3 linked regions of the Homo sapiens genome follow. The protein of the gene in region 1 interacts with the protein of each later gene in a biochemical or structural test. Each region holds a gene or a part of one and is shown in the gene's direction. Other genes may lie near its edges.

Region 1 (3,728 bases):
ACCTCAGGTGATCTGCCCGCCTCAGCCTCCCAAAGTGCTGGGATTACAGGTGTGAGCCACTGTGCTTGGCCTGATTATACCATTTTTGTTCCCTAGAATTAAAATGCTAGGTCAGGTGCAGTGCCTTTTTTTTTTTTTTTTTTTTTTTGACGGAACTTGCTCTGTTGCCCAGGCTGGAGTGCAGTGGCACAATCTCAGCTCACTGCAACCTCCACCTTCTGGGTTCAAGCGATTCTTCTACCTCAGCCTCTCGACTAGCTGGGATTACAGGCGCACACCACTATGCCTAATTTTTTTTTTTTTTTTTTTTTTTACACGGAGTCTCACACTGTCACCTAGGCTGGAGTTCAGTGACATGATCACAGCTCACTGCAGCCTCCATCTCCCAGGCTCAAGTGATCCTCCACCTGAGCTTCCCAAGTAGCTGGGACTACAAGGTGCATGCCACCAGTTCTGGCCAATTTTTGAATTTTTTGTACAGACAGGGTCTGGCCATGTTGCCCAGCATGGTCTTGACCTCCCAGATTCAAGAGATCTGCCTGCCTCCGTCCACCTCAGTCTCCCAAAGTGCAGGGATTACAGGTGTGAGCCATTGCACTCAGCCTAATTGAAATGTTTTGACTTGCTAATTCTTTAGTGTGCTTACTATGTGGTTAATAGCCACTACAATTAAATACATAATTCTGACTGTTTTGGTTTTTTTTGTTTTTTTTTTTTTGAGATGGAGTGTAGCTCTGTTGCCCAGGCTGGAGTACAGTGGCGTGATCCCGGCTCACTGCAACCTCTGCCTCCTGGATTCAAGTGAATTCTGCCTCAGCCTCCCCAGTAGCTGGAATTACAGGCACCTGCCACCATGCCCAGCTAATTTTTGTATTTTTAGTAGAGATGGGGTTTCACTGTGTTGGCCAGGCTAGTCTCTAACTCCTGACCTTGTGATCCACCCACCTCAGCCTCCCAAAGTGCTGGGATTACAGGTGTGAGCCACCGCGCCCAGGCCTGACTGTTTTATTCTTTTAATTTACTTAGAAAAATTAAATGTCCAAGTCAGATCTGGCTAAAATTTTGTTTTGTTTTGTTTTGTTTTGTTTTTGAGATGGAGTCTCACTCTGTCACCCAGGCTGGAGTCCAGTGGTGCGATCTCGGCTCACTGCAACCTCCACCTCCTGGGTTCAAGTGATTCTCCTGTCTCAGCCCCTGGAGTAGCCAGGACTACAGGTGCATGCCACCAAGCCCAGCTAATTTTTTGTATTTTTAGTAGAGACGGGGTTTCACCATGTTGGCCAGGCTGGTCTCGACCTCCTGACCTCAGATGATGCACCCGCCTCAGCCTCCCAAAGTGCTTCAATTACAGATGTGAGCCACCGTGCCCGGCCTAATCTGGCTAAAATTTAATGTCACAGAATTAGGGTTAGGGTTAGAGAGAACTCTAATCTTTCAAAGGATGGATACACTGAAAACCATGGTTTTTGTTTTGATATGTTGAGGAACTATATGCTTCTGTCAGATTTATTCAGTTTTATTACATTTTGGAAAGATTTAGATTAATGATTAGGATAAATGATAGTTATCGAAGAATCACAGATTATTAGCACAGGAAGGGTGTTATCCCTGTCAACTGTCAGCTGGGTTCATGAATCATTGTAATAAATCCCTGGTGCATATTTGTTCACATTTGCTTTATCACTTTCAGTGACTTGAAGTCACAACGTAGGTGAGGGGATAACTTCAGATTTTTAGAAAGCATCTTTGTGGTAATGTATAAATATTTCATGTAAAATACTTTAGGATAATTTAGACATAGATGATTAAATCTATATAAGTAATCAAACTGTGTAATTATATGTCATGAAATGTAAATTGTTTCTAAAGGTAATCATAACAAGCTCCCCATAACATTAATGAAACTGTTTTGCCCATCAGAGACTTAATGTTAAGAACTGTAAATTCCAGATGGGTGCCATGGCTCACGTCTGTAATCCCAGCACTTTGGGAGGCCAAGGTGGGAGGATCACTTGAGCCCAGGAATTCAAAATCAGTCTGGGCAACATAGCAAGACCCCATCTCTTAAAAAAAAAATTAGTCTAGGTGAAACTGAGACCTTGTCTTTAAAAAAAAAGAACCATAAATTCAAAGCTGGTTTGGCCAGACGTCACTTAGTTTGTGTACTTATAGGGAAAGTTTTAACTTTTTTTTTTTGCTTTCATGCTATTTTAGATAAATGAAATAAACACAGAAATTAACCAGTTGATTGAAAAGAAAATGATGAGAAATGAGCCCATTGAAGGCAAACTCTCACTGTATAGGCAACAGGTAAGAACATTCTTTTGGCTCACATATTTAGATCTGTAAGCATATTCATGAACCACTGGCTGTGTTATCTATAGTCTTAAAGTGAGAAGGAAGTAGAGAATAAATGTTGTTCTGTCACTGCTAATCTCCATAGTATATCAAAGAATTAGTGGAAAAGCCACAAAAGATGCTTATTCAAGTTTGAAATTACGATACCCCTAATAATGCTTAGTTTCCTTAGCATGTACGAACTGTGGTAATAGAGCTATTTGTGTTTGTATCTGTGACTGTGGAATTTATTTTTAAAATGAAAACTTACCTTAGGTGGTATAAATAAAAATATTTATAATTTTTAATGAGTTAATAACAGTATGCTTTTTCAAGTTTAAAGTTAGTTTGCAAGTGTAGAATAAATTAAATTTTAGTGCTAAAGCATTTATTATTTTATCCACAACTAAATTGTCACTTAGTTTTTGAGGGTACTTATCTTGTTGTATATTTCTATAAAAGATTCAAATGAAGGCCATGGCTTATCTGAAAAGAACCAAGGCAGGAGGATTTTAGTGTGAAGAGCACTCTACAACCTCAGAAAATACTAAGCTACATAACAAAGCATTATTTAAGGACATTAGAATTTTTTAAAACCTTTATAACGGAAAATTTCAATCAATTACAAAGGTAGAGGCAAATTGTTCAATAAACCCTCATGTGTCCCTGAGCTACAGGGCTCATGGCCATTCTTGTTTCCTCTATACTGCCAACCCCAACTATATTATTTTGAAGCATATCTTAGACTTCATCATAACATTTCATCTATAAATGTTTCAGAATATATATCTAAAAGATAAAGGCTTTTTAACTTAACCACAACATACCACATCTGAAAATTTTAATAATTCCTTAATATCAGAAAATATTCAGTCAGCCAGGAAATCAATGACATTCCCTTGTCTCTCTTTTTTTCAATTAAGATCCATATAGGATTCATATATTGCATTTGGCTGATAAGTTATTTATTTATTTATTTATTTTTTGCTGTCACCTATCTGTCCCAGAAAGTTTGTCTCTTTTAATCCATATGTTCTCTTCCCATCGATTTATCTATTTAGTGCTTTTTGGCAATATATGTGTTGACAAAACTGGTTCATTTTTCCCATGATATTTCTAACAGTTTGTGTTTTACTGATTGCAACCCTATGGTGTTGTTTTACCATGTTCATTTGTTTCCCGTATTTCCTATAAATTAGAACTAGGAGCTTGAACAGATCTGGTTTGATTTTTTTTTGGCAAGAAAACTTTCTAGGTGGTATTACATACTTTTATTTGGAAGTGATAATGCTCGGTTGTCTGAGCAGCCACTTACTATTATTGCTCATTGCTTATCCATTAATTTTATTATAAATTATAAAATATTCATATTTTGATTCCTTCTTCATTTA
Region 2 (3,987 bases), on another chromosome or scaffold:
TTTGGGAGGCTGAGGCGGGAGGATCACTTGAGCCCAAGACTTCAAGACCACCCTCAGCAACATGGCAGAACCCCATTCTACAAAAAATAATAAAAATTAGCCAAGCATGGTGGTGCACGCCTGTAGTCCCAGCTACAAGGGAGGCTGAGCTGGGGAGGTCCAGGCTGCAGTGAGCTGTGATTGCACCACTGCACTCCAGCCTGGGTGAAGGGGCGAGACCCTGTCTCCCCTTAAAAAAGGAAGAAAAAGAAGAAAGGAGGGAGAGAGAACCCAGTGGTCGGTTGGGGATGGAAGTGCAGGGCTGAGAGTCTAACTGAGGTTAGAGACCTCGTGTTTCTGTTACACCAAGGTGTGTGGCTGGCCAAGACTTCTTCAATACCCGTGTGTAGGTGGACTGGTTTGGCTTCAGGTTTCATCAGATGGAAGGAGAGTAGGACTCGGGCAGGGAGGATCCTTTTGAGAATGCCGAGGTAATGGGCCAGGATAGGGAAGAAGCAGATTGATATCGAGGGGGAAAGCGGAGACAGCAATGGACAGGAAACCCAAAGATGGTGAAAAACAGATACAGCGGAAGTGACTCAAGTGGCTGGAAGTGGAAGAGATTGTGGCTGGGGACATCAAAGGAGGTGCAGATGCTGTTGATAAGGTTCCCAGTGTGGCCCCGGAGTGGGAGGCTGATGTGAAAAGAGGTCAGGGAACTGGCGCTGAAAGGGCTGTACTGAGGATGGGGGCCCTGCTCCCCGCAACTCAGATACCCTAGAAGCATCCACTCAGAGTTTAGGGTTCCGAGAATCCATCAGTCCCACAGCCTCATTTTAAAACCAGGGACACTGAGAGGGTCAGGGCCTGACCCAAGGTGAGAAACGGATTTTGAGACTAGTGGTGCTGCTCCCCGCTCCTCCATGCCCCGGCCAGGGCTCTCCCTCTCCCAGACACTCTCCCCCAGAGAGAAACAGAGGCGGTGACGCTAGGAAGAGGAGGAGAGAAGGAGGCCGCGGGTCCCTGTCGCCTCCAGGCCAGGCAATCCACTCCAGGCTCGCAATCCACCGACCTGGAGTTCACGGCCTCCGCCCTCCTGGCCCAGCGGCCCCCACCCGACCCCACCCGACCCCACCCGACCCAGGCCGGTTCCGGTCACGCCGGAAGCACGTGGCCCCCCACCCTGCGGCGTTGCCCGGGAGACCAGGGTTGTTTACCAGCAGGACAGAGCCCGGGCGCAGGCGGCGGATGGAGCGGAACGGCTAGGTGAGAGCGGCTGCCCGATCCCGCGGCCTGCCCTTGGCCTCCGCCAGGCCTGGAAGGGGCCGGGGGAGGCCAGTCCCCGAGACCCCAGCACATCACCCGGGAGGGCCTCCCCAGACCCAGCCCGGGGGACGCAAACCCCGGGAGACAGGCGAGGAGCCTGGAGAAAAGTCTGCTCCCGAGGCAAAGCAAGCCTGGCCAGAGCTCACCTTTACCAAAATAGGGTGACTCCCGGGCTCTGCAGAAACCGAGGGACCTATGCAACCGCTGGGCCATGCCCTCCAGGCTGGGATGTAGCGACGGGGACACAGACCCAGGGAGAGAAAAGGATGTCCCAGTCTCCGGCAGGGCAGAGACGAGAACCAGAGGGCCCCTCCCCCAGTCCTGTGCTCTTTCTCTGAAGTCAATTCTCGCTTTCTAAACGCTCTTTCTCGCCCCTCCCCCAGATCCCTCCTCTGCCTCTTAAGCCTGTTGCCTTCTAGGGCGCTGGAACTTGGACTTAATTGAGTTATCCCCACCACCTCCCTGCCCTTCTGACGCTGGAATCATCCCCAGTTCTCTATCCAAACATTTGATCACTTGGTGGCTTGTGGTTCAGTGTGGCACTCTGCATAGGACAGTGTATTCTAATCCCTAGTTTGGGGTAGAACTGGGAATGGTACCAGAGTTTTTTCATTCTCAGGCCAACCACCATCTCCTGTTGGTTCTTCAGAGCATTTTTATCCTGAAAGCCTGGTGGGGGTGTGGGTTGGGGGGGGCGGGATGGCAACGGATAGGATTAACTGATACAGTTTTAAAAGACCAATTCAAATGTATGTATCTTGGTATATACCAGCAGATGGTATGTAGGTGGTTATATTTTACTGCATATACTGTAGGCTTAGATTTGGGTTGTGAGTGAAATAGGGTGGTCTGACCCTGTGGTGGGTGGTGGGCACCCTTAGAAAGCAGGAGCCCTGCTTTAGCTTCTCCTATCCACATTTCCTTCTTTCCAGTTGATTTGGTGGTGAATCTTAAGGAATGGGCACCTGCCCTTCTGGCAACTTCTTGGAAACAGTTGGCAGTGTTTGCTTCCTGACTCCTAGCAGGCCGCTGGGGTGCAGCTATTGTGTTTAAGTAAACAGGCCACTCGCCTATTCAGCTTGGCAGCTTGATAGATGCCTACGCCTAGATCTTGTCAAATCGGTTTGTGGTTGAGTGGCTGCCAGGCCTAGAGGTGGTGAAGTGAACTGAGCAGGGAGAATCATGGCTGCTGCCTCAATCCTGGACTGAGGGTGGTGGGCAGAGTTCAGGACCTGAGGTGTGAATATAAAGGCACAGTTGGCCCAGATCCCCAAACACCTGTTTCCCCCACCGCCCATCCCTGTGTGATGGGTGCTGGGGAGAGCTGGTGTTCCCTCCGTGTAACAGATGGTCCCTGTGCTCGGGAGGAGGCAGTGGGTTATGAAAGCAGGTTGGATATAATGGTTTTACCTGAAGGAGGTGTTAGTCTCTAAATAACCATGAGTGGGCTCCTAGGAATTAGTCATAATTGAGGTTTTTCTCTGAGATAGCTCACAGTCATGTTATCTTATGACCAGGGTGTCTTGAATATGACACCCCCTGAACATGGATAATTATATGGAACCAAAAGGTATAGAAAGTGCATGCACATACTCAAGTTTTACTGTTAAAAATAATCCCACAGAGAGCCTGTGAGAACACATGACTCTCCTCATCAAAGTTGTTAAGGAAGAGGTTTCTAAGTTACCAAACTCACTGACAGTTAAACCTTCCTGAGGCATGTGTGGGTGTTGGAAGCCAAGCCTGTGATAATTCTGTAGAAGCTGTGGCAAATTAATAGCCATTCCACAAGTGGGGAGGGTGGGCCGAGAGGGGCGTGGGTTTGCCTGTGGAGCTTATCTTTGGCAGAACAGTTGGACAGTTATGACCTTCTCCTGCCATCCTGAGTGAAAGTGCAGAGCTGCTAATTGCCAGAGAAAGACTTGAGAAGGAGACTAAAGGGGGAAAAACACATTCTTCACAGTTGATCAGAAAATAGATGAAATTAACAAGGAGATGGGCAGTCTTTTTTGATGCCAAAAGTTTGCTAAGGAGAAGGCTCCTGAGCTACTAGCAGCCAGACTGGGTGTGAAAGACGAGGGAGAAGTGGAAAATGGGAGTGGAGAGAGACTCAGGCTGTGAGTGGAATGCAGCAGACATAGAGGCCTTTAAAAGAGGGTAGCTTTGTCCAAGATTTTGAATTGAGCAGGACATCAGGAAGATATAGGGATAATGTGTTGCGTTTGGTCCTGGTCTGAGTGGAGAGGAAGCAGATACTCCTTAAAATTAGGCAGCAGTGGTTACATGTGCAGAATGGTGAGGTTAGAATACAAACCCTGAGAGGCTCAGATTACATTGTTCAAGATTTTGTGATGAAAGGAGTGAATTTGCAGGAAGTGCAAATCATTCTGCAGGAAGTGAATCTGAGGTAAGTAAAATGTGGAATTAGAAGAGAAGTGATCAACTCGGGATTTTATTTTCACATGTTTTGAGGCAACTGCGTAGGTGGTAGCTCATTGCAGTCCACCTCCCTGCATTTCTGTGCAGTGGACAGGGCAGGCATGAGTTTCAGGACTCACCCAGCTGGTTAACCAGGAGTAGAATCACCGAGGACACACGGGGAAAAGTTCTAGAGCAAAACAAGGAAGGCTTTTGAACTTAGCACATAGGAAGCACTAAACAGACAACCCGAAGCAAACAACG
Region 3 (3,728 bases), on another chromosome or scaffold:
GGGACCTAATTAAACTAAAGAGCTTCTGCACAGCAAAAGAAACTATCAGCAGAGTGAACAGGCAACCTACAGAATGGGAGAAAATTTTTGCAATCTACCCATCTGACAAAGGGCTAATATCCAGAATCTACAAAGAAGTTAAACAAATTTACAAGAAAAAAGCAAACAACCCCATCAAAAAGTGGGCAAAGGATATGAACAGACACTTTTCAAAAGAAGACATTTATGCTGCCAACAGACATATGAAAAAATGCTCATCATTGCTGGTCATTAGAGAAATACAAATCAAAACCACAATGAGATACCAGCTCATGCCAGTTAGAATGGCGATCATTAAAAAGTCAGGAAACAACAGATGCTGGAGAGGATGTGGAGAAATAGGAACACTTTTACACTGTTGGTGGGAGTGTAAATTAGTTCAACCATTGTGGATGACAGTGTGGTGATTCCTCAAGGATCTAGAACTAGAAATACCATTTGACCCAGTGATCCCATTACTGGGTATATACCCAAAAGATTATAAATCATGCTACTATAAAGACACATGCACGCGTATGTTTATTGTGGCACTATTCACAATAGCAAAGACTTGGAACCAACCCAAATGTCCATCAGTAATAGACTGGATAAAGAAAACGTGTCACATATACATCATGGAATACTATGCAGCCATAAAAAAGGATGAGTTCATGTCCTTTGCAAGGACATGGATGAAGCTGGAAACCATCATTCTCAGCAAACTATCACCAGGATAGAAAACCACACACCACATGTTCTCACTCATAAGTGGGAGTTGAACAACGAGGACACATGGACACAGGGAGGAGAACATCACACACCGGGGCCTATCTGGATGGAGGGCTGAGGGAGGGATAGCATTAGGAGAAATACCTAATGTAAATGAAGAGTTGATAGGTGTAGCAAACTAACACGGTACATGTATACCTATGTAACAAATCTGCACATTGTGCACATGAACCCCAGAACTTAAAGTATAAAAGAAAAAAAATTAGGCCATTTTCAAGTTTTTCTTGAATTTTAATTTCTGCTAGGCCCTCTTTATCTCCCCATGATGTGCATGTAGCCCTTTCAGTAAGGAGTGTATGGGGAGCTTGGGCCCTCTGTGGCCTTCCATTTATTTGCATGTAGCCTCCTAGTCAACTAGGGTTGTACGGGGAGCCTATGTAGTCCCTCTTTGGTTCTCTCATTTCCAAATCTCCTGGTGACATATCTGGCTGGTCCACTGATCTGTCCTTCACCCGAACCACGACTGAAGCTTCAGACTAGCAGAGCTGTGGGATCTTCCCATTCGTTTCCTATCAAATTTGCTCATTTTACTGGCAACACTGCTGAGTGTGGGCTTTTGCCCACTGCCTCAAATCAGGTCTGTCCCCTCTGGAAGTGAAACTGCTGGCTTTTGCAGCCTTCACCCTGTACCAACTGAGCTATGTAAAGGGACATTCGAACAGTCCCAGACAGTGAAGCTGCTATCTCCTACTTTCTTAGCTAACATATAGCAGCTGTTCATAGATCAGTACTTCTCACTTTGTTTGCCTTTGGTTCATTTCCAGATTTCCACCAAAATGATTGTTTTTGACAATGTTGTTCAGTTTTATAGTAGCTTTTTGAGAGAGGATTTTCTGACCATATCAGTGTAGTATAACCAGAAATCCCATATTTCAAATCTTTTGAAAATTTTTAACCATTTAGTATTAATATTGAAATGTCTTAATTTGGTATATAATGTCAAGATGCCCAGTGATATTTAGGATTTTAATTTCTTAATCTCAGCAATATAAAATATATTATGCTCTTAATATTAATTATAATGTTTATTCTTAAACATTTTATTTAGGAAATTATGATGTGATGACCCCAATGGTTGATATACTTATGAAACTTTTTCGAAATATGGTGAATGTGAAGATGCCATTTCACCTTACCCTTCTAAGTGTGTGCTTCTGCAACCTTAAAGCACTAAATACTGCTAAGAAAGGGCTTATTGATTATTATTTAATGCCATCATTATCAACTACTTCACGCTCTGGCAAGCACAGTTTTGTAAGTACACTCTTTTTTGTTCAGTTTTCTAAGTATACTCTTATGGGATTTGTGTGGTTACATTACAAATCTAAGTGCTTGTCTTTTTGATATAGTTTAGAGATTCTTTTGGGTGATATTGTTTAGGTGATTAACTTGTTTATAATACCTATCTTATGGTTTCTGGCCTTAAATATGCTGTGATCTAAGAAGAAAACATAAGCATCACTGGATAAAAGAGAGAACCATTATGGAGGTTCTCTATTTTGGAATTGTTAACACATTTTATAGTATATAAAAATATGATGGATTAGCTCATAAGTATTAAAATATTTGCAGATATTAGAAATCACATCTTTTTGTCTTTTAGCTGACACATGAGCTACTAGTACCTTTCCCATGATTCTTTTGTTAAAGTATTTACATTTTCTTCATTTTGAAATAGTATTGAATTTTGATAGCAATATTGATAGATTTGACTACTGATTTCATAGTTGTAAAGTTAACAGTGTGGCAATAGAAAGGCAGAGGCCAGTCACATTTTCAGACGACTAAAACAAAACCCTTTTATTAATAGACAAACCACTATTTAGTAAATGTGGGTTGCCTTAAAAACAATTATTTTTTACTAAATTGTTCATGCCTATAATTAACTCAATTTAAAATACTTTTGTGTTTGTTTAGTCAGTATAATTTTAGTAACCTTTTCATTTTCATTTAAGTTTAAAGTGAGAACAGGATAGTGTATGGAAATAGTGAATTAATGCTCTCTTCAAATTACTTTTTTCTGTGACCCTTCTTATTCCATTTATTAAATTTAAAAAAGTGTTTTCTTTTTACATTTTAATTAATCTGTGAAATTGGAATTAAAAGTGCTCATTTATAGTGGCATTAGAAAAGTAAATATAAGTGAAAGTACCTTGTATGTATTTGTCACACAGTAGGTAGTCAATAAATATAAGGGCCTGAATCTTTTCTACTACTTTTACTTTTTTGGAGTTCATATTGTGTTGATGTTTACGGAGTTATATTTGACTATGTTTATATTTTTATGGTGCTTGAAACTAAAGGATTTAAATGAAAAACTGTATAGAAAAATTATGCAAGTTAGAGTTGAAAGTGTCTTTAAATTTTTATTTTATATAAATATAAACTAGTACTATATCTTGATGATGTTGGGTTTTGTTATAGGCTTTTTTTTTCTTTTTGTTAAAAGTTACCCTTTAGAATAGTAATTTTTGGAAAACTAGCCCTTGATGCTATATGTGTATGTTTTTTTGAAAAATACCCTTAGGTGAACTTGCTTTTCTAGGCCGCCATTCTTTTATTTATAGAATTGAAAGTTTGGTTGCATGATTGTTACAATCTTCCCAGGTCTCCAAATGCATATTTACCTCTGTCTCAGTGCTATCTAGGAAGGAAACCTCTTCCTGGAATAGTGGGTAGAGATTCACAAAATAGTGTGAATAATTGTGGTAGTAGATCTCTAGTTGTTTGGAACTGGCCACAAAGAGTTGTATTTGTTGAGTAGGTTAGAAACATGTCAGATAATAGCTACAGGCACACAGCAGCAGCAGCGATATTTAAAAGATATCAGATATGTAAATTAGTCTGTTATTCTTGTGTTCTAGAAAATGAAAGACACTCATATGGAAGATTTTCCCAAAGACAAAGAAACAAACCGGGAT

The links.
Region 2: the proteins of IFT81 (region 1) and UBXN10 form a complex in vitro, tested with the Homo sapiens proteins (one study listed by BioGRID).
Region 3: the proteins of IFT81 (region 1) and POLI form a complex in vitro, tested with the Homo sapiens proteins (one large-scale study listed by BioGRID).

What each region holds. Positions count from the first base shown.
Region 1 is NC_000012.12:110,144,739-110,148,466, forward strand, and holds part of IFT81 (intraflagellar transport protein 81 homolog), read left to right. Parts: intron 1-2,214; coding exon 2,215-2,310; intron 2,311-3,728. UniProt on the Homo sapiens protein: Component of the intraflagellar transport (IFT) complex B: together with IFT74, forms a tubulin-binding module that specifically mediates transport of tubulin within the cilium. Binds tubulin via its CH (calponin-homology)-like region.
Region 2 is NC_000001.11:20,184,909-20,188,895, forward strand, and holds the start of UBXN10 (UBX domain-containing protein 10), read left to right. Parts: upstream 1-1,187; 5' UTR 1,188-1,245; exon of another isoform or gene 1,246-3,712; intron 3,713-3,987. UniProt on the Homo sapiens protein: VCP/p97-binding protein required for ciliogenesis. Acts as a tethering factor that facilitates recruitment of VCP/p97 to the intraflagellar transport complex B (IFT-B) in cilia.
Region 3 is NC_000018.10:54,289,978-54,293,705, forward strand, and holds part of POLI (DNA polymerase iota isoform a (long)), read left to right. Parts: intron 1-1,855; coding exon 1,856-2,061; intron 2,062-3,671; coding exon 3,672-3,728. UniProt on the Homo sapiens protein: Error-prone DNA polymerase specifically involved in DNA repair. Plays an important role in translesion synthesis, where the normal high-fidelity DNA polymerases cannot proceed and DNA synthesis stalls. Favors Hoogsteen base-pairing in the active site.